Homo sapiens: one gene and its partners. The protein of the gene in region 3 purifies or fractionates together with the protein of the main gene of each other region. This does not show direct contact. Each region holds a gene or a part of one and is shown on either strand. Other genes may lie near its edges. The genes, in order: ARL4C, MSRB3 and DCUN1D4.

Region 1 (8,731 bases), on a different chromosome or scaffold from region 3:
GGCACTGGCAACACACCCCATCCTCCCTGCTGCACTGTAGAAAGCCAATAGGGTTTGACAGGGGCACAAAAGCGTGATTGTTTTCATCTCTCTGGGGTCCAGCCAAGTAAGCTTAATTAAATGAAAATAATAGCATTTCAGTTCACCTGCAGAGGTGGGAGAAGAGGAATGAAAGTAATCCAAGTTTCCATCAAATACTTCTTGGTTCATGGTGCAGCTCTCTAATCACCTGATATTTATTGTTAACTTGTTTTTTTTTTCCTTCACTGTAGCTATTAGAGTAGAAATTTAATTACTGTGATTGAATTATTAAAGGATTCAGAAATACCTTTTGCATACTAAGCCTTTTCTTCCCCCTGAACTGGAAGCTGGCACTAAGAACTTTTCTGTCACTTTGGTATGCCTGAGTGCTGACTTCCAAAGCTTTGAGTCTTAACATCCTTGACAAAGGTTCATTTAATACATGCCATGTAAATATTAGGGAGAGATGTAAAATAGTGTTATATAAGAATTATATTTGAAAATATTACTGATAGGAAAGATAATGGCTTCTATTTATTATTATTATTTTTTGAGATGGAGTTTCGCTTTTGTTGCCCAGGCTGGAGTGCAGTGGCGCGATCTTGGCTCACTGCAACCTCTGCCTCCCAGGTTCAAGCCATTCTCCTGCCTCAGCCTCAAGAATAGCTAGGATGACAGATGCCTGTCACCATACTCGGCTAATTTTTATATTTTTAGTACAGATGGGGTTTCACCATGTTGGTCAGGCTGGTCTCAAACTCCTGACCTCAGATGACCCTCCCACCTTAGCCTTCCAAAGTGCTGAGATTACAGATGTGAGCCACCATGCCCAGCCCAGATAATGGCTTCTAAAATTTTATATCTATCTCAGGAATGTAATAGAGATCGACAATTATTAAGGAAGACTTGAAGCGGGGGAGCCTTTTAGCTTTTTGATTTAAATTTTTTTTCTTGGAGAAAACAGCAACAACAACAACCATACAAAACACTAGCAGTGGTGATCATTGGGAAAATAAAAACCTGAATTGTTTCAGCCCTGTTGCTTAGCAAAATAAAAAATAAGGCACCCTGATTTTTTTTTCCTTAGAATTATAAACTTGAATGGCCAATAGAGTAGTGGATCTTTTTTATTTTCAGGCTTTGGACCACTTGAATGAAGCAGGAGCTTGCAGGCATCACAGATTTTCATTTATCTCCCCCCAGATCTACCGTCCCATCCACAAAACTTCCCTTGGCACCAGTGTCTTAGTGGCTTCCACTGTTACGTAGCCTGAGTCGGCGTTTCTCCTGGAGTTGAGGGGGTTGCACTGCAGTGATGGTGACTGGTTTGTCTAGCATGCCCTGGGGCTTCTGGAAGTATTGGTTTGGTTCTTCCTTAAGGAACCTCTCCTGACAGATAAAAGGCTTCAATCCTGGACCACCTGGCTTCAGGAGCTTCAGGCCTTGTCACTTTGTCTGCCAACTGGCCTCCTTCATTCTCGACTCCCAGCCCCATTCTCCATTTACAGCTGCTCATGCCTGCCTGCGAATTAGATGCAAAAATCAGTTTTCTTCCCTTCTCTGGTCTCAGCTGGGTTTCCTGGATGCTCTTTTCTGATCTCTTCCACCAATTGTGATTCTTTGAACAGTTCTCCTAGTAAAGCGACTTCCTGCTCTGCCAGGTTCCTGGCTCCCCTCTCCCAGCAGATAACCCACAGGTCTCACAGACAAGACCCACACTGGCATCAATGGCTCTGAGCTCTGAGCCCCAAGCAAAGCACCCATGGGCCCCTGGCACTTTCTCAGTTTAACCAGTAGGGCTCTATTCCTGCATCTCCATAGAGAGAAGAAAAGCAGGGGGTCACTTATCCATCATTCATTCCATAACTATGGACTGAACATTTGCTAAGCACTAGGCCAATGTGCCTCTGTAGAGCCCTTCATCTATTATCCGAGAAGCTCAGCAGAGGGCACTCCTGTATTATAACAGTTAAGCACCGGGGCAGTGAACCTGAACCCAGAGTTCCACAGCAGGTCTGCAGTGAGAACATGCAAATAACCCCACACTTATGCGCGCACGCGCGTGTGTGTATGTGTGTACACGTGTGCCCATGTTCTGGTCTTTATTTACTCATCATATTCAAGAATAAATGGGATGCTCCCTTTTGCATTTTAGGTTATTAGCCTTACTCAAGCAAAGATAATAATGCCATGATATATTGCTCATCGGATTCACTCAAAAGTCATTTTAATTGGTGGCACATTTTATTTCAAAGCCCTTAAAGGGAAAAAAAAGAGAATATTTTAGGATGCAATTTCAAAATTACTGCCAAGTTATTGCCTTCTGTTTGCTTGAAATAATTGAGTTCTTCTCTGGATGCAGTCATCTTGATGAAGAATAGAAAGGAGAGGACCTGAAATGTCACTGCTGCTGGAAGAGGAATTCATCTCAGGCAGACACAAGTACATGCTATTCTTTGAAAAAATCTCTCCTTCTGATTAATTAAAATGAAGTAAGTGCCACAGTGCAGCCAATATTTTCCACTCAGTGGAATTTAGCCATGATGTATGTCCATGAAGAAATAGGCTCAAAGTAGGCCTTACATGTCTGATATGAGTGGTAAACATTACCTTCCTTTTCATAATTCCAGTGTTTTTCAATAAAAATCCACATTTGAAGGAAAGTTACCAGTCGACTCAACCAAATGATATTTTTATGTGTTAGAAGTTAAATTATCAACTGTAAAATTAACTTATCACCTGGTGAGTGAAATTAGCAGGTAGAGTGGTTGCTATTCAATTATGGTGAGTTGCTGTTTAATGGCTGTGTTCTGGAAGGCTCTATTAATGTCTATTAATCTGTTTTTTCCTACTGGACAGCAGACAGCCCTTTATTGCTAAACCCCATCATGGTGGTGCAAAATGTGGAGGCTGCAGTCAAAACCACTGAGGCTCTTGGTAATAATTAGCATAGCACCAAAAAGATACATCGGATACTTTACTAAAATATCTCCTTCCTACCACCTTAAAACTTAAAGCAAGTCTTGACTAGGGGAAAAGGAAGTAACACAAAGGTAATCTGTGGAAGCCGGATGGAGAGGCTTCCAGTCTGATCTGTCTCTTTCCAAATGTCCAGGTCCCAGGCTACTAAACCAAAGGCTCATCTTGGGTTGGGGCTCAGCCTCGGCCCTGCCTGTGGCAGAGAAGAAAGAGAAACAAGAAACAGTCTCATGAGAAGCTGGCTATCTATGGGGCAGGCATTAAAGAGAGTCAAGAAAATCACTCCAAAAACACAAAATCCTGTCTCCCCAGGGTTCCCAATAACGGAAACATCATCATTATGAATTATGCCAACATATGTTGTTTCTGTTGCCTCACTAGAGTTGCTCTTTTGGTGACAGATCCTGGATTCTTCTTGGAGAACCACCCTTCCCGATTTCAACCCCTGGGCCACATCCACTGGTGTGTTCCCTCCTCCTGGACTGCAGTCCTTGATCCAGGGTGCGTGCTCCAGGCTTTGGTTAGAGTTACTGGGAAAGAGTTGTACCTTTTCCTTTCCAGGATCTAAACCAAGGATGTGAGTCCAAGGCTGCCAGAAGGAAAAAGAATCAACACAGGGGAACACGGAGGAGGACTGGAGAGACACCTGCTCGAAAGACTCCTTTTGAGCTCCTGGGTCTAGCCATGCCTGAAGAGGACCTTTATCCTTAACTTTTCAGTGATGTCAGTGAATACATTTCCATTTTTATTTAAAATGAAGTAAGTGGCACAGTGCAGCCAATATTTTCTGTTGAACTCTATCCTTCGGGTGGCTCACTTTATTCCTCATTGAAGGAAATAGCGTGTGGGTAGAGTGGGATGTGAGGAAGAGGGCAGGCAGGTGCCCAGTTTTGTGCATACAGACCCTTGGTCCTGGAGCAGGCAGTGGGCCTCTAGGTTCTGCCTTAGCCGTCACGGGCGCCTAGGCCTTGTTACCTCACTGGACAACGTTGGGTGGAATGATAGGCAGGGTCCTTTCCAGCCTGATACTTCGTTTCCAGCCCCAAATCCACTCAGTAGAGTGGATGGTCGCTCCGGCTGCCACCTTGGGAATTCCAAGGATAGGGGTGGTGGTGGCTTGTCCTTCCTTCTACAGGTGAGGTCTTCTCACATGCTTTGGTACCAACGATATCATATGTCTTTTCGTGGTTTGTGAACAGAAGGTGATAAAGTATTTCTCTAAAATTCTAGCTTTTATTCATAAATTCTTAGCATTTTCATTTTCTTCTCCCTTGACCCCGTTTCCGTCGTTTCTGTCTCATAAGCTAGAGCTGGGAAGATGCGGTCGCCCATGCTGCGGCCTGCTGTCTCCTGCGGAGCAGCTCTCCCCAGATCTGTGTGTTTGCCATAATATACTCTCACTTTTCTCCGCACCCAGAGAGGATATACATTTGTTACATGTTTACAAACCAGAATAAAACCATTGAACTGAGGTGACAGGAGGTGGAACCCGTGGAATATCAGTGTTTGTAACCCACTGCGCCACCAGCTCCAAGCTGTAGACACATTTTCTTTCAGCCCCCGGGGCTGGTGTTGCCATTTCTGCGGAGTAGTTCACCTGCGGGCAGGTGGTTCTCAGTTCCCAAAGTCGGGTGGCAAGGGGTGCTCTCCCGAAATGCTGACGCTTCCCCTGGGATGTCAGCAGAGTCGATGCGGACGAAATGAGGTAGCCCAGGCGTGTCTGGGAGGGTGAGCTGTCCGAGCTACTTGGGGCAGGTAGGTCTTCTAATCCCCCATCGCGGCCTAGGTCCGACCCTGCCCCAACCGCCGCCACCGGGCAAGAAAGGCTGGGCCTCCAGGGTGCCCTGGGCACAGGCCTGGGCTCCGGAGGGCGGCGCTGGCCGGGTGCAGCCCCCTGGAACCCAGGCAGGAGGCGAGCCTGGGCGTCACTGGGGGCCGGGGCCGGCGACAGCCGCGGCGCGAGGGTGGGAGGGGACGCGCCCGGCTGGATCCAGAGCGCAGGCTGGCAGCTCACCGAGGCCAGCCCCGTCCCGTCCCTTCTGGGGTTTGGAGGCCCCAGCCTCGCCGCCCTCACTCCCCAGAGCGGCGCTCTCCCAGTCACCCTGGGGGCCGCCCTGCCCCGCCTCGCGCCCACAGAGCTGGGACCCCGGGACCCACTCCCTCAGGCAGGCTGCGTCGCCCACGGCTGCGGCCCGGAGGGGCAGGGGGCGGGCTAGGACCCGGGCGGGGATTCCGGGAGCCGAGAGCTATTTTTGCAAACGCGTCAGCCGCTGGGGAGGAAGAGCCGGCTCCGCGCCCATTGTGTCTGCGCGGCGCGGCGCGGGAGGGGCCGGGGGGCGGCGGGGGGCGGCGGGGACGCAGCGAAGCGCGCGAAAACGGCCGGCTGGGCGGGGAGGACCGCGCCTGACCCCCGGCGGCGGGCGGGGCGGGGCCCGGGGCGGGTCCGGGGGCGGGTCCGGGGCGGGGCGCGAGGGGGCGGGTCCGGGAGCTCTCCGGCCGCTGCAGGCTGGCGGCTGCTGCGGCGGCGCGGGGACTGTGAGGCTGCCGAGCGGACAGCGACTCCCGGGGAAGCCCGCGCTCCGGGAGCGGGAGCGGGAGCAGGAGCAGGAGCAGCGCCGTCCCAGGCCAGAGGCGAGCGCCGGGCGCCGGGAGAGCGGAGAGCCCGGGCAGCTGCCGGAGCGCGGGGGCGCGGCCCGAGGAAACCACAGAGCGAGCCCAGGCCTGGGGAGGGCGCCGAACATCTGAGGCGGCTTCGCGGGAGACAAAGCCGCGCGTAGAGACGCGATGCCCGCCGATCGCGAGCCCGGCCGGCGAGGGCGCGGGGACTGCGGCGTCTGAGCGCGCCAAGCCGTGCGCCCGCGGGGACGCCGAGCCCCGGGGCCGGTGCGGGCGGCGGCGGGCGGGGCCCAGGTGCGCCCGGCCGCGTCGGGCCCGTGACTGCTCGGGGGGCGGCGCCCTCCCGCCGCAGCCGCAGTGGCTGGCGCCGCAGCCAGGAGCCATGGGCAACATCTCCTCTAACATCTCGGCCTTCCAGTCCCTGCATATCGTCATGTTGGGCTTGGACTCGGCCGGCAAGACCACGGTGCTCTACCGGCTCAAGTTCAACGAGTTCGTGAACACGGTGCCCACCATCGGCTTCAACACCGAGAAGATCAAGCTGAGCAACGGCACGGCCAAGGGCATCAGCTGCCACTTCTGGGACGTGGGCGGCCAGGAGAAGCTGCGGCCGCTGTGGAAGTCCTACAGCCGCTGCACGGACGGCATCATCTACGTGGTGGACTCGGTGGACGTGGACCGGCTGGAGGAGGCCAAGACGGAGCTGCACAAGGTGACCAAGTTCGCCGAGAACCAGGGCACGCCGCTGCTGGTCATCGCCAACAAGCAGGACCTGCCCAAGTCGCTGCCGGTGGCAGAGATTGAGAAGCAGCTGGCGCTGCACGAGCTTATCCCGGCCACCACCTATCACGTCCAGCCGGCGTGCGCCATCATCGGCGAGGGCCTCACCGAGGGCATGGACAAGCTCTATGAGATGATCCTGAAACGCAGGAAGTCCCTCAAGCAGAAGAAGAAGCGGTAATGCGCCCGGAGCGACCGGGGAGCGAGCGAGTGCGTCAAGAAAGAATGAATGGATGGATGGATGGTTGGATGGATGGATGGATGGATGAGCGAGAACCCGCGCCCGCGAACAAAGAGCGAACCAAAGCGATGCTTCGAATTTTTAAAACGGAATCTCTGCACCCAAATGCAGGACTGGTGACTTAAGGAGCTGCGAAGTCTGATTTACCGGCCTACTCTCGACCTGCCCCCCACCCCCAGCTCAGGGGACCTTTTGTCTGAACGCCAGAGCTACTGACCAGGTCGGGGGGCCGCGGTGGGGAGTGGAAGAGCCGGTCCTGCTGTCCGCCCTCCCAGCCCCAGGTGGAAGGCTCAGTTGTCGGAAAGACAAAAGCGATTTCTTCCCACTCCTGCAGGGCCAGAAGTTCAGGCTGCCCCGCCTCCACTGGGGGATCGCACCTGTGAATTACCTGAGGTATGCATTTCCCAGAACCGTGGGCGTACCCACCTTGGGGGGCATGTTGGTTCTGGGGGGACCACCTCTCCTTGCATTCAGGGGCTGTGAAGCTGAGTAATTTTCGGTCACAGGGCAGGCCCCTGTTGAAATTTCATTTGTCCTGCTCTGGGCCCAAAGGTGGTGGTGGTTTGGGTCATCAGAGGACTGCCTGGGACGGTTCAGCGGGCACGGAGCGCTGTGCTGGCCTGGCTGGGGATGGCCGCGGAGGTGCCCTTTTCCTGGTGCTTTGTGGTGGCTGCAGAAGACCAGTTTTGTTGAGAACTGCTTTTCAGCCTGGAATCAGACATCTTCCAGATGGTTTGGACCCTGTCCATGTGTAGGTCATTATCACACAAAGAGACCAATAAAAATAAAAAAAATAAAAAAAAAAAAAGACGAACTATTGGAGGTGGTGGCCAATGATGCATTTACTGTTTGCAGGATAGTTAAAGGTGTTTAAAGGGTAAGGCTTTTGGTGTAAATGCTGGATGGGGTGTGTGTGTGTGTGGATATAGGGACCTCCCTCTGTACTGTGTACTGTGTAATCGGCATTAATACCTAGACTCATATGTATGGAATTTTAAATTCTCTTAGCCTACTGATTGGTTTGGATGAGCACACCAGCTGCAGGTGTGTGCTGAATTGCAAGATGGTATTTTTTTTTTTAACCAAGGGATGTCTCTTGTAATACTAACCGCGTGATAATGGGTTTTCAGACATGATGAAAAAAAAAAACTTTTACAAATGAATACTTACCTTAGAAATATTCACCTTAGGAAAAAAGACTTTGCTCTGCCCTTTTATATTCCTTTATGCTGCAAGTGGTGACATGTTCAGATTTCTAATTTGGTTCATTGTGGCCTATCTGGTTTAAGTCTTTCATTAAAAATGTCTCGTTAGAGTATTTGATGTCATGCACCAAAAAAATAAAACCCCACCTTGTTGCAAAAGCTGACCTCGTTGCATGGAATTAAAAGAGAAGGAAAAACACAAGGATGAAGTCTTTCCGAATTCATTCTTGTGGGAACTGGCCTTCGGAGCCAGCCAGCACTTTGGGCAAATGCAAACAACAATGAGTGCTTGAGATAAAAGAAAGTGTGACGTCATGGTCACTGGTACTCAGGCACTTCACAGTTTACTTGAAAGAGGCTTTGGAAAATAGATAAAGTGAAAGAAGAATAAATACATATTTTTAATAATGTAATTTTAAAAATCCTTTATAATCAGGACTGAGTCTTGGTTTGCAGAAGCTGTCACTTACCCTGAAACACAGTATCAAAAGGGAAACTTAAAACATACTGTTTGATTTTTTTATTTCCTCTTACAATCCATGTTTTCAGGTAGAATTATGACTTTCCCCCCATTGTTACACATTTCTTTACAAAGGAGGCCTGTAGAAATTGGACACGATCATGCTTGAGCATGTGAGTTAGTCAAATTATGAGTCCCTGCCTATTGTCCATTACACACCGAATGTTAATTTAAGAACCAGAGGCAGAAGTTCTGGCTTCCTGCTTGAAACCCAATTCTTATATGAAATTTTTTAAAAGCAGAAACCTAGCAGCCCATCTGCTTTTTCTCTTTTGTCGGTGTATTTGGTACCCCTCCAATGCTGGTCTTTTTGTAGAAACTCAGTAGAGAAAGTCTAGCTAAGCAGTGTTGAAAAGCCTGCAAGATTTC
Region 2 (4,601 bases), on a different chromosome or scaffold from region 3:
CAGTGTAGAGACCAGAGCTGGGCAGTGCAGGGCATGGAGACCTGCAAGACACATGGCCTTGAGGCCTTTGCACAGACCCACCTAAGATAAGGTTGGAGTGATGTTTTAATGAGACTGTTCAGCTTTGTGGAAAGTTTGAGCTAAGGTCATTTTTTTTTTTCTCACTGAAAGGGTGTGAAGGTCTAAAGTCTTTCCTTATGTTAAATTGTTGCCAGATCCAAAGGGGCATACTGAGTGTTGTGGCAGAGAAGTAAACATTACCACACTGTTAGGCCTTTATTTTATTTTATTTTCCATCGAAAGCATTGGAGGCCCAGTGCAATGGCTCACGCCTGTGATCCCAGCACTTTGGGAGGCCAAGGCGGGTGGATCACGAGGTCAGGAGATGGAGACCATCCTGGCTAACATGGTGAAACCCCGTCTCTACTAAAAATACGAAAAATTAGCCAGGCGTGGTGGTGGGCACCTGTAGTCCCAGCTACTCAGGAGGCTGAGGCAGGAGAATGGCGTGAACCCGGAAGGCGGAGCTTGCAGTTAGCCGAGATCATGCCACTGCACTCCAGCCTACATGACAATGTGACACTCCATCTCAAAAAATAATAATAATAACAATATAAGAACTAGCTGGGCATGGTGGCGCATGCATGTAGTCCCAGCTACTCCTGAGGCTCAGTCAGGAGAATCGCTTGAACTTGGGAGGCGGAGGTTGCAGTGAGCTGAGCTCATACCACTGCACTCCAGCCTGAACAGAGTGAGATCCTGTCAAAAAAGAAAAGAAAAAGAAAGCAGCATTCAAATGTAAGACAACTGTAAAATATTGAGCCCCACTTGGTCTAAAATTCAAAAAGAAGAACGCCTGTCCATCGCCTTTTTATAAGTCCTTCTCTCCACACCTAAAAGCAGCTGCAGCTGGAAGGGCACAAATTCCACTGTGTAAAATAAAATATTAGGGGCAACACACTTCATCAAGGCAGCAGGAATGAGAGAGAGCAGAGAAGATCAAGGATGAAGTCTTGGGTACTGAAAAATTCAGTGCTGGGCAGAAAAACTGACAGGGCAGTACAAGTAACAAACAGAATCCAAGTGGGGTGGCCCTTGTGCACAGAGCTCCAGGTGACCTCTGGAGAGACATGGGCATTCACATGGAAAGCTAAAACGGAAGCTCAAGTTTCATACTCAACATAATCTTCTGTGTGACAAAGGACAAGCCATGTAGCCTCTCTGTGCCTATTTCTTCATGCATAAACTGGGACTCATAATATTTGTAAAATGTATTGATACTCTCAGGGCAAATTCACTATATTGCTATACAGTTGAGATCAGTGTTGTAAAATTAAACTGATCTGGTTCTAATTGCCTCAAAGGCCAAAGCCCAGGCATTTGAAATGGAAAGAAGCAGAGAGGAGGCTGACTTAGCTGATTGGTATGGAAACAGTTGGGCCAAGAGCCAGAATTTCCCTTTGTAGCAACACGGCTAGTTTTACTTTGAGAAGCTCTGCTCAGCTGCTTTATAACATTAAGTCTGGCGGAATGGATGTCACTGTGCACAATAAAGTTTTCACAAGTATAAACAATGGTGATGTAAGTCAACATTGCTGTAGCCAGGTGTGAAGGTTGTATGGTGTGTGACGAATGTACATCATGTTTGTAGGTTTGGATGCTAATCTTGAATTGTAGTTTAAAAAATACGTATTTTTGTAACTCTTTGAAAGTTTATGAAGACTGACAGCTTTCCTTGTAAGCACTAAGAGAAAAAAAAGAAAGAGGGACATTTGACAATTTTAAAGAAACAACAAGAAATTAGAATGAAAATCTGTGACAAACAGCGTCAGTGTGGCCATGTCCACATTCCTACATGTCTCTCTCTACAAGCACCTCTCTAAGAAGCCTGACATCCCGGTGGACTCTTTATAGTCATGTACACTTGATTCCAGATGAGCTCTGGTCTTATCTGGATGCTCAGATAAGAGGTTTCTATCTGAGCATCCAGATGTTCCCTCAGGTTCCAAGACATTTCACCCCAGGCCCTGGGTTCACTCTGGAATTCGTAGGCTTCACGTCTCTCTAGAAATGACGTGTAAAATTTAAGACCAGACCTCAGCCATCAGCGTCCAGACCATCCTAGAAGTCTTTCCCAATCTCACAGAGAAAGCCCTAGTATTTCCCAGTGACCCCAGGATTCCACGTTGGGGTGGCCAAAGAAATAGGTCTCTCAGGGCTTTGCCACAGCCTCCAGCCCATCCTTCAGAGGCACACACAGCACCTCTCGGCTGCTCCAGCTCTGTAGGATAGCCTCCCCTGGGGTCCGTGGGACGCGGGCCACAGTGTTGAGGTAGACAAGGAGGATCAGTGAGAGGCCTCTTCCCTCTCCACAGAGACTGGATTGTCATTGTTCCTTCATTTATATCGTAGGGCTTAACATTTCACTCAAAAAAAAGCCCCTCTTTTTCTAATCCTTAGTCTTTGTTTCAAGGAAAGCCAGTTTTTCTTCTACCACATTTTCCAGGATCGACTTTAAGAAAAATGCAACATCTATTGAAAAAAAGTGGGGTGTATGCATGTGGTTTAATTCCAGATTGCTTTTGGGTTTAAGTGGTATCAAATTTCAGTATATTTCTGTCTTATGTGAAAGAAATATATTACTAAAACGTCAGTGAGCAATAATGTCAGCTGTCAAGCACTAGATTTATTTTTGCAGGATATGGAGTGCAATGAACTGAGTCAATATGGCAAGGTGTATGTGATCTGTGGGAGTTATGCCATTTAACATAGGAAGTGCATGGGACTTTCCCTCTCTGCACTCCAGCTCTTACTGTACCATTAGAAGATGCAGAATTCTGTTGGTGTGCAAAAAGTATAGCCTTACATTCAAGCAGAATGGATCTGAAGAAAGCAGCAATATCTGTTACTAGAGAACATTCCCATGTGTTTAAACTCTTCACTTCTTAGATGCATTTAAATTCTTAATGCAAATGACGTAGCAATTTGAAAACTTCTCCGTATTACTTGTGTTTAAAATGTCTTGCTTTAAATACAAAACAAATGGTAAAGGGGATTATCTTTTGTTTAGATGGTTAAATATTATTTTTGCCTTAGATAGCTTTGTAATAATTTTTCTCCAGACAGTTCAACACTTTTGAAAAATGACATGAATTTTCATTAAAAACCCTTTTCCTATGTTTATTGTATACAAGAATTATGCAATAAAATTTCTTTATAAAAATATTTTCTTCTTTGATTCCTGAAGACTCCTTTTATTTTCAGCACAGATACATGGACTGGAGTTTGTAGCAGACTGTTCTGTTTGCCTCCTTAACCAGCTGACAAGTCTGTAGTCTATATGGAGAGCCTTTCATCTGATGCAGTCTTTGGAAGTTGGGTCTCTTACAGTAGGGTCAAGTCCAACTCTCCACACCACAGGCCCTGGGAGAGGCCTCCAGGGATCTGAAAGACTGGAGGAAAGGGAAACATTTGCAGAATTACTCAACCTTCACCTCACCTCAGCAAAATCTTCAGCAGCTTGTGTATGTTTCTTGCTTAAAATATGGATTTGGGAGTTCCACCATAAAACTCTGTGGGTAAAAATGCAGGAATGATACCACGCTGATGCCTTGGCTTCTGTTAAAAAATTTGACAGGAAACTTACACTATCATTGAGGGTTGTTCTCTGTGGAAGTATATTAGGAGCTTTCCACTGCTTACAGATGATTTCACTGATAAAAGCCATCTCTACAGATAAGTTTTGGTATTGTATTATTTGTTGTTGAAATGTTGAGTTGTTTTGTATTGTTGATTTATTTACTTTAGGAGGCAGAAGTGGGATGATGAAGACTTTTGTTCTTCAGCCAATTCTTTAAGTCATACTCCTGGTATCTTAAAATTCACAGGCCAGCAACTTTATGTAGTATACCTTAGAGCACTGCTTTTCATAGTGTAGTCCTCAGACACTGAGGTATCAGCATCACCTGGGAACTTGCCAGAAATACAAGTTAATCAAAAGTTCTGGGCTGGGGCCTTAGCAATCTGCATTTTAGAAAGCCCTCCATGTGATTCTTGTGCTTAACCACTGCCTTGGAACTTTTAGTGAGAAAACTTCAATTAGTATTAATTTTAAAAGCATTTATATCTGACCCTCGAAAACGACTTTTTTTTCATCAGTCCTTTTCTTTCTATAGGGGTGGGTGGATAGTTTTTCCAAAATGTCATGCCTTGTAGCGCTTCTCGTCCCTCACTGCCCATTTGTCTTGTCCAGGAGGACTAGTCTGTCCTCATTCACTAGCACCACTTTAATTCCTATTAGCATTTCTGGACTGAGCCTGGGCTGCCCAGTGGTGCTTCCCAGTGCCTTTCTAGACCACAGGATGTCCATGGCAGGGTTCATCACAGTAATTCCAAGAATTAGAGAGCAGACTTCAGTGTATAAATTTACATATCACCTTTCTCATCTCTTCTATTTTCTTATACTTCCTTTCAAAATTATCATCATTTTTTTTAACCATTTAAGATATTTCTTCAAAGGTGCCATGTACCCAAATCTTCAACTCTTTCTTTTTGTCAGAAAACTGCTGTTACCTAGATCTTAACAACAAAACGACTTTTGG
Region 3 (7,876 bases):
CACAGGATTTGTGTTGACAGCGTATAATTTTAATTTCTTACAAAGAGCTTTTGGATGTCTTTACTCCTTGAATTTGTTACGGTGATTTTTTTTTTTTAAATGCCTATAAAGTTGATGGCTGCCTGATAGCATCCTGGGAGATTCATTTCACTTTTAATTGGGAACCCCTTTGCAGAGAATGTCATTAGGATCATTGTTGTCAGAGAACCCCCTGCGAGTGTCTCCAATTTTGATGTTTAGTAGATGTTTGCTGTGGGAGCTCTCGACTGTTGTTCCCGGGAATTTTTAGTGTTTCCAGTCATGGTCATTTGCACATAGCCACAAGTCCACTCACAGGAAATGTTGGTTATCAGTGAGATGCCACTATTCAGATTGTGAGTGCATCCATAATATCTTTCTCTTATTTGCTAGGCCGAAGATGGTGTTAGTGATTGCGAGCTGCTGGCTGGCACCCTTGCAGAGCAGGAGTAAGTGAGTGCTGTTCAGCTTTCCAGTCCTGTGAGTCTGATGCCTTTCCTCCGTGTTTTGGCATCACTGCCAAACATATGCATTGAAATCCTTCATGATCATCAGTTTGTCAGATGATTATATTGTTGCAAAGAGTCTGTCCAGGTCTTTTGTATCTTTTTTTTCTTTTTTGTCACCTTAGTGTATGTCCATTGTGACGGGGACATAGGTATTGATGATGGTGGAAGAAGGCACAATATATATCACAGCAAGACTAGAGATTTGGGGTTTAGTGAATGATTACAAACTCTGCAAAGGGAAAACTCTTCCAGAGCGCCAGTGTTGTCAGCCCAGTGCTGCATAAGCTGTTGTTCAACAAATGGACTTTGGCCGAGTCCTGTGGTGCCGCGTGTGTTTCTCAACAGTTTACTCGTTTATCTTGTGGATTGCTTCATAGTATGGTGTGCTGTTGCCGTCTGCCACACCTGTGTTACAGGGTAAGAGGAAGTTTTCCATTTGCTTGCACAGTGTCATCACAGAAGTGTAAGCCCTTGAAACACAACAAACCAATGCAGTTTGTCTGGCAAAAGGCAGGCAGTCTCTAGATCACCTCTTCTCCTGTCCTCTTCTCCATTGGGAGTGCGTACTGCAGCCCTGAGCAGGACAATACATATGGCCAAGGGACAGGCAGAGAACCCTGTGGAAAGGAGGTCCCACCTGTTTGCATAGAACTGTGGAACTGGGATACACCTGCCCTCATCAGACTTAAGTTATGTGACCTCTGAAAGAAGGGTGATGTGGAGCCATCTGACCTGGTCTATTCATGGACAGTCGTTACACTTCACAACTGAGACCAAAAGGCCAGATCTATTGCACATCTTCCTTAGGCAACAAGTTTCCTTGTCTTCATCTACCTTGATTGTTGTTGTTAAGTGAGGCCCTTACATTTGCTGTATTAAGTCCCAATTCAGGGTCATGGCTAGAAATGGTTTGTATACTAAAGAGTACCTCACTGTTAAGCGTCCTTGCAGTGATGATTTATTTTATCAGGAGGTATATATGGCTGCATATGTGGCTTAGGGTGGTGGTCACAGCATCATCCCTTAATTTGAACATTTAGATTCCACTGCACTGGGCTAGCCAGGCACTTTCTCCCTTTGTAAAAAACTACTTTTACAAATTTCCACTGTAGTTAAGATAACACATGGAGGCTAGCTTTGGATATGTAAGGTATGCTTATGGTCCCAGGCCCTCTATTCCTTTCCATGGAAACTGACCGCTTGTAGTTCTGGAATGGAAGCATATAAGAAAGACGGAAATGAGAAATTAGGATCCTTAATTGCAAATGTAAGTGGAATGAGCTTACCCTGCCCTTATTTAGGTTTATGTTCTTATCTTTTTTTCTGGTGTCCTTATGAAATGTTGTCTTTCACTTGGTTACTAGTTAGGAGTATTTTACTAGGAAATTTACGTCTAAGAAATCTATCTATCTATCTGTCTATTGAAGGACTGTATTGATAGACTTCCTGCCTTCCACCAGAGTGGGTAGATGAATCTATCCTCTGATTTAGAGAGACACTTCAGAGCCCCAGCATTTGGTATGAGCTGAAGTCAATTCCAGCATGTTTAGGTTCAAGAAAAATATTTATCAATGAAATCAAATTGATTTCGTTTTTATTAAGGAAACCTGATTCCTAATCATAGGCATCAAAACCTTTAAGCTCCGTTGAGTTATAGGCTTTATGGTCAACAATTAGGATTTTGATAATTATCATAAATATCAAACAAGCAAGTGATTGAGTTACAAGTTTTTATTAATCCCATGAAAAGCCTGTAGAAACTGCTACGACATAACTAATTGATTTTGCATTAGGGTGATCATTCAGTTGACATAAATCTTTCTCACAGTAAATTTATATAATATCGTAATGCCCAAGCCTTCCATTGTGTTTGACTACCTCCCCTCCCTAACCTTAGTCTGGATGCAGGGTCTTTAAGGTGTATGATAAATGAGCTGTTTACTAATTTCCTGTTGAAGTGAATACACATTTGCAATTATTGGAATTTATTATTTGGGGGCATCTGGCTCATCCTTGTTTTTGTTTGTTAAACAGGAAAAGGACCAGCGCAGCCTAGACATAAACACTGCCAAGTGCATGTTGGGACTGTTATTAGGAAAAATCTGGCCCCTTTTTCCAGTTTTTCACCAATTCTTAGAGGTACCAAATTGTTGTTTTATGAAATGTATGTTTGCTTGCTTGGAACTACCAAATAACTTTATTCACCCGTTGTATGTAATTTTTTGTTTGTTGTACTTTTCTGCCTATGTAGGAATTACGGTGACATAATTGCTGTCAGTCAGCAGCTACCTATCTTCTTGGAGTGCATCTGTGTATGCGTTTAATGTTGTGTTGCTTCATTCCACATTAAAAATGCATCCGAAACAGCCACAGCTCTGTCCTTTTCTCTCTTTTCTCATCCCCATTTTAAAGCTTCACTTTTGTTTAGATTTTCTGTTCTTTGTAACAATAGAAAAAGAAGATTTACTTTCTTTTGACTTTAGATGAACTTCCACTTTTATTAAGCAGAGGTTTAAAAGACAGTCATCTGCCTTCTTACCAAAATTAGTTTGTAGTATGTTCTTATCTACTCTTGTCACCAAGTAACTTGAGGACCTTAGATCAATCTAAGTATTAGGCAGACTGACAATATCTCCTTCAGTTTAAATTGTCTTCAGATCAGTATCAGAACAATCCAGCACTTTATTCCATCATTGTTTGTGTGCTTTTAAGTATTGATGATCAGAAATTCTGAGCTACTGGTTTTGTTGAAGTGTCATTCTGTGGGACCTGGAAGTATATGGGATACAAGTTTGAGTTACTTGGGTTGTCATATATGGCATCCTCCTTTCCCTCCTGCCCCAAGCCCTTCTAAAAAGTGTCCTTTGCTTGCAAGGATGAGGGTGTTGGGTCTTTGAGAAAATGCTGGGCCGTAAGATGACTCTGGCTTCACTCTTGAATAATCTTTCTCACAACTTACTTTATGTAATGGTCCAGAATATTTTTAATATCTGATAGGATTCTTTGAGAACTGTTATTAAAAATTTCTTTTAACATTACTAAGTGGGACTCCTCAAAAATTTAAAAACTAGTTTTACGTAAGTATCTGTTTACCCAAAATAGTCCATGTTGACATATGGTCTGTTCTAATTTCTCTGACAATCCCTTGAGATGAGTTAGCATTATTTGGAAAAATAAATAGAAATAGTTCCCTGTTCTCAGAGAGTTTAGCTGGATTTACACCTGTGTGTAAAGAGTCTTAAGCTGGAAGACCTGGCCTGGAGGAAATCTGACTTTGTGTAATTCCAGGTGCATCATCAACTGTTTCAGGACTGGTTTTTGCTTTTACCTGCTTAGAAAGTTAAACTTGTAGTCTGTGCTTTGTTCTCTCTCTTACATTAGTTTGCATTTTTCTTTAAAAAAGACAGTATTCCTCTCATTTCAGCTTTTCTTGTGTTTGCATCCTCAAAACCATTGACTCAACTCTCTTTGCTTTTTATGTACTTGTATTGTTTTACTATGTTTCTGATTTTAGTGGGGAAGATTTAAAAATCATTGGTTCTGGATTTTATTTATGAATCTTCATACAGGGATACTGTATTTTTAAATAGACACATGGCAAATTTCTCGTCTAAGAGGAATAGAAAAACGATTTCACAGCTATTCTAGCTTCTTTTATGATCAGATTCGAGTTTTGAATTATTAGAACAGTAATTTTTTTCTGTGACAAGAACACCTAATTTTGAGACCACTTGCAGCACTTACCGGATCTCGTCAAGTAACCTGCTGCTGCATGTGCTTTAAGCCGAAGGCTTGGCCATGGGCAGTGCTGGTTATGTCAGGGGTTATATTAATGGGAGCTACTCTTTATTTAGCACTTACTTTGTGCCAAACACTGAATGAAGTGCTTCACATAAATTAGTAAATGATCTCTTTTAATTCTTATAATATCTTTATGAAGTAGATATTATCTGCATTTTATATAAAATGGCTTTTGCAGTTTAGAATTTTCACTTCTGGGGATATATAATCATGTTATTTTGATGTGCTTTCCATTTTGTATTGAGACCCTGTCATATTTTTGTAATGACAATTGTCATCTTAAATTCTACTCTTGCTCTCCCTCACCATCCTCCTAGATTGGTGCTTAACAAACCTCAAACAGAAAGAGTTAACCTTACATGAACTTAATTAAGTTGATTCATAAAGCAATTGAAACCGTCCCATTTGTTCATTTTAAGTGTCAGTAATTCATATTACTTTTCCCTCCATCAGCAATCAAAATACAAAGTTATTAATAAAGACCAGTGGTGCAATGTCCTAGAGTTTAGCAGAACAATTAATCTTGACCTCAGCAACTATGATGAAGATGGAGCATGTAAGTACTGCCGCTACCATTCTGCCATTCGTGTACATTTCTATATCATCCTCATTGGGAAAAGCCTCAGCTACATTACTATTATTATTATTGTTATTATTATTATTATTACTACTGTTTCTCTCTTTCTCTCCAGGGCCAGTTTTGTTGGACGAGTTTGTGGAGTGGTATAAAGACAAACAGATGTCCTAGGACTTTATGCATAGCAGCGAGAGAGTCACTGTTACCACAGTTTTGTCACCCATTAGCCATAAATTGCTGTTTGTATCAAAGCGCATGCTGCTTCTCTTGCACTGTTTCCCTTTCGCAGGGACATGTTGGTGTTTGCTATTGAATTGGCCAGCTCTGCTTGCTGTGTGGCATTGTTCTCTTGGAAGGCTGCTTTGCAGTTTGTATTTACACTACAGATTGGTGAATTTGCCAACGTCCTCACTGTGATTATGTGTATATTGCTGTTTAAATTTTGTATATGTGTATAAAAGGAAAAAGGTTCACCTAGAGATTATTTCTGAAAAATGTATTGTAAAAATAATTTTGTGGCATTTCTAGTCCCTTTTTTTGAATGAACCAATTATACTTTATTTGGTCTCCTATGTAGCATTTCAGAAAACAAGAGAAAACTGTTACCATGAACAAACATTGCCAGAATTAACCTTACTGTTTAAGAGGCCAACTTCTGGAAGGAGGTAGGAGTCATAACTTTTTAGAGGCATATGCCAAATATCATTTGGTATACTTAACAATATTAGTGTTTTAAAATGATGAGTTATAATTATTTGAACATATAGATATGTAACATGCCACAAATCATTTCTACCATGCAAGGTGTATAAGTTGTTTATTTTTTAGTGTTAAAACTATAATAGCTTGAATATAGGTACCAATGAACAAATTCAAATTGCACCTCTTTTCTTAAAAGAATGGGATTTAAACTCTTATAAACATTCTTTAACTTTTTTGTTTGTTTGTTCTCTTTTTTTCCTTTTGCATTCTTCTAGCCAGTGATTGATCTGCTAATGCTTTCTTTGCCACTCTAAGTAAAATTTATTTCACCTCCTCAATGAAAACCTCATGGTTTTGCTGGCTGTTTATAACTGCATCGCACTTCTAGTTGTGGCTTGAATTTTCAGTTAAGCTTTCATGGTATGTAATTTTCCAGCCTTTTGAGAAAACAAGCATACTATAAGTGAGAGCTGTTTTGTTTTCCTTGTTTGTTTGTTTCATGCTAGGCTTTTCCTGGCAGCATGTCCATTGCAGGCAGTGGACAAGAAACCACCAGCATTGAGCTAACCCAGTACATGCTAGGACCTGTCCTAGAGGGGCCACTTTTCATTACCTGAGTTATTTGTACAGAAGGGCAATAGCCATTATTTTTGTGGATGAGGAAACAAGAATAAACAGAATGGTATTTTTAGGTTTGTATTTTATGTCTTTTTTTTTTTTTTTTTTTGCCATTCTTGAGGAAATATAGAGATGACATGTTTTCACCCCAACTATCTGGTGCTATTGAATGACTAATTCAGTCCCTAAAGTTCTGTGAAAACACAAAAGTCTAATGATTTGAGTGAGTAAAAGGTAATGGTGCATTTGAACAAGTAAATGCTGTCGTGGTCAGCAAGATCCGTGATTTGAACATGTGATGACTGGAAAAAGGTTTGGGTTATTTGGAACTCTGGCTAAAACTTCTTTCGGGTGACATGTGATCGTTTAAATGGCATTAAGTGAATAAAGCACACAGACAGTGCTACTCTTGACCACTATTTTACCATTTCTTTGCAAACAGTGTTCACATTTTCATATTTTTTCCCTAACTAAACCACCAAAGAAAGAAATTTTGTATGTATATACAGTGTGTGTGTATACAAAATCATGATATAGTAGAATGCAACTACTTTCTTTTTCTACCAAACGAAAGGTTTTATTTGCTGTGAAATAAACCAGAAGTTTAAAAAACCCTGTAGTGATTAAGCATACTTAACCACTCCTTATTTGTAGATTCACTTTCAACCTTAAAAATTAATACCAGTTTGCATAAACCAATATCTGAAAAGAACAGGAAATGTTAATGGCAAGCAACAGCTATTAATACTGATGTGATGGATGCATTTGTTTTGCAGTGGTGACTGGCCTAGGCAGGTTTGGATCTGTGAAGAATTGATTCATTTTCAAAATTATTCCATAAAGTTAAAAAGTTACACTTTAAAGGCAACAGGTCATACAGTTCTTTAAATCTGATCAACTGTAGCTTTATTTAAAGCAAATATAAATCATAGATGAAGTTATTTTAAACACTATGTTAGAATATAGAGATTTTTAAAAAATGCTGATAAGCACAGTTAATTCTAAAATGAGAGGATTGTTACAGGAGGGAGATGTTACAGTTAATCCACAATCAACATTTTGATGGTAGGGAAAAAACTGCGTAAAAACTATTGCATTATGTATGATAAGAAAGTAAGTATTCCAAAGGGATAATCTTGCATATTAAGAAAACTCCAAATAATCTTTAAACTGCCTTGAAAAATAAACCTCTTTGACTGCTGAGCGGCAGAGTGCTTACCCTTGATTGTCTTGATTTTATATATTTATTTCTAAGGGGAGAAAAAGGGGTCAGACAGAGTAATATGATACATTTTCTTAAAAACTTCTCTAAGTTGCACAAAACTGAACAATCATCAAGCACTTATTTACTGGCTAATGTTGAATAAATTAGGGTGCCTTCATCTGGGTTTTCTTTAGTACCTAAGTCTACAACCCTTTCTCTTTTTCTATTGTGTTTCGAACTCCACATTGCAATACTCTGTTGTCATGGAATACAACCTTTAGATGTTTACTGCTGAAGTAGGTCAGAAATTGTATTATTTGATTTGCCTCAAACATCCACTGTAATGTTACATGCACCTTTTTTGAAGCATGAACTCTGAATTATGTTTTTATAAATCTGACTAGGCAAACCTAGATTCTGGTTTCACAATGGATTTATTTTCTCTCT

The links.
Region 1: the proteins of DCUN1D4 (region 3) and ARL4C purify together in Homo sapiens (affinity purification with mass spectrometry; 2 studies listed by BioGRID and IntAct, with this or other methods). This does not show direct contact.
Region 2: the proteins of DCUN1D4 (region 3) and MSRB3 purify together in Homo sapiens (affinity purification with mass spectrometry; 2 studies listed by BioGRID and IntAct, with this or other methods). This does not show direct contact.

The regions. Positions count from the first base shown.
Region 1 is NC_000002.12:234,493,854-234,502,584, reverse strand, and holds the start of ARL4C (ADP-ribosylation factor-like protein 4C), read left to right. Parts: upstream 1-5,503; 5' UTR 5,504-5,998; coding exon 5,999-6,573; coding exon of another isoform or gene 6,574-6,577; exon of another isoform or gene 6,578-6,748; coding exon 6,749-6,779; 3' UTR 6,780-8,731. UniProt on the Homo sapiens protein: Small GTP-binding protein which cycles between an inactive GDP-bound and an active GTP-bound form, and the rate of cycling is regulated by guanine nucleotide exchange factors (GEF) and GTPase-activating proteins (GAP).
Region 2 is NC_000012.12:65,463,683-65,468,283, forward strand, and holds the end of MSRB3 (methionine-R-sulfoxide reductase B3 isoform 2 precursor), read left to right. Parts: 3' UTR 1-3,225; downstream 3,226-4,601. UniProt on the Homo sapiens protein: Catalyzes the reduction of free and protein-bound methionine sulfoxide to methionine. Isoform 2 is essential for hearing.
Region 3 is NC_000004.12:51,908,509-51,916,384, forward strand, and holds part of DCUN1D4 (DCN1-like protein 4), read left to right. Parts: intron 1-411; coding exon of another isoform or gene 412-467; intron 468-649; exon of another isoform or gene 650-944; intron 945-2,561; coding exon 2,562-2,666; intron 2,667-4,781; coding exon 4,782-4,884; intron 4,885-5,020; coding exon 5,021-5,076; 3' UTR 5,077-7,876. UniProt on the Homo sapiens protein: Contributes to the neddylation of all cullins by transferring NEDD8 from N-terminally acetylated NEDD8-conjugating E2s enzyme to different cullin C-terminal domain-RBX complexes which are necessary for the activation of cullin-RING E3 ubiquitin ligases (CRLs).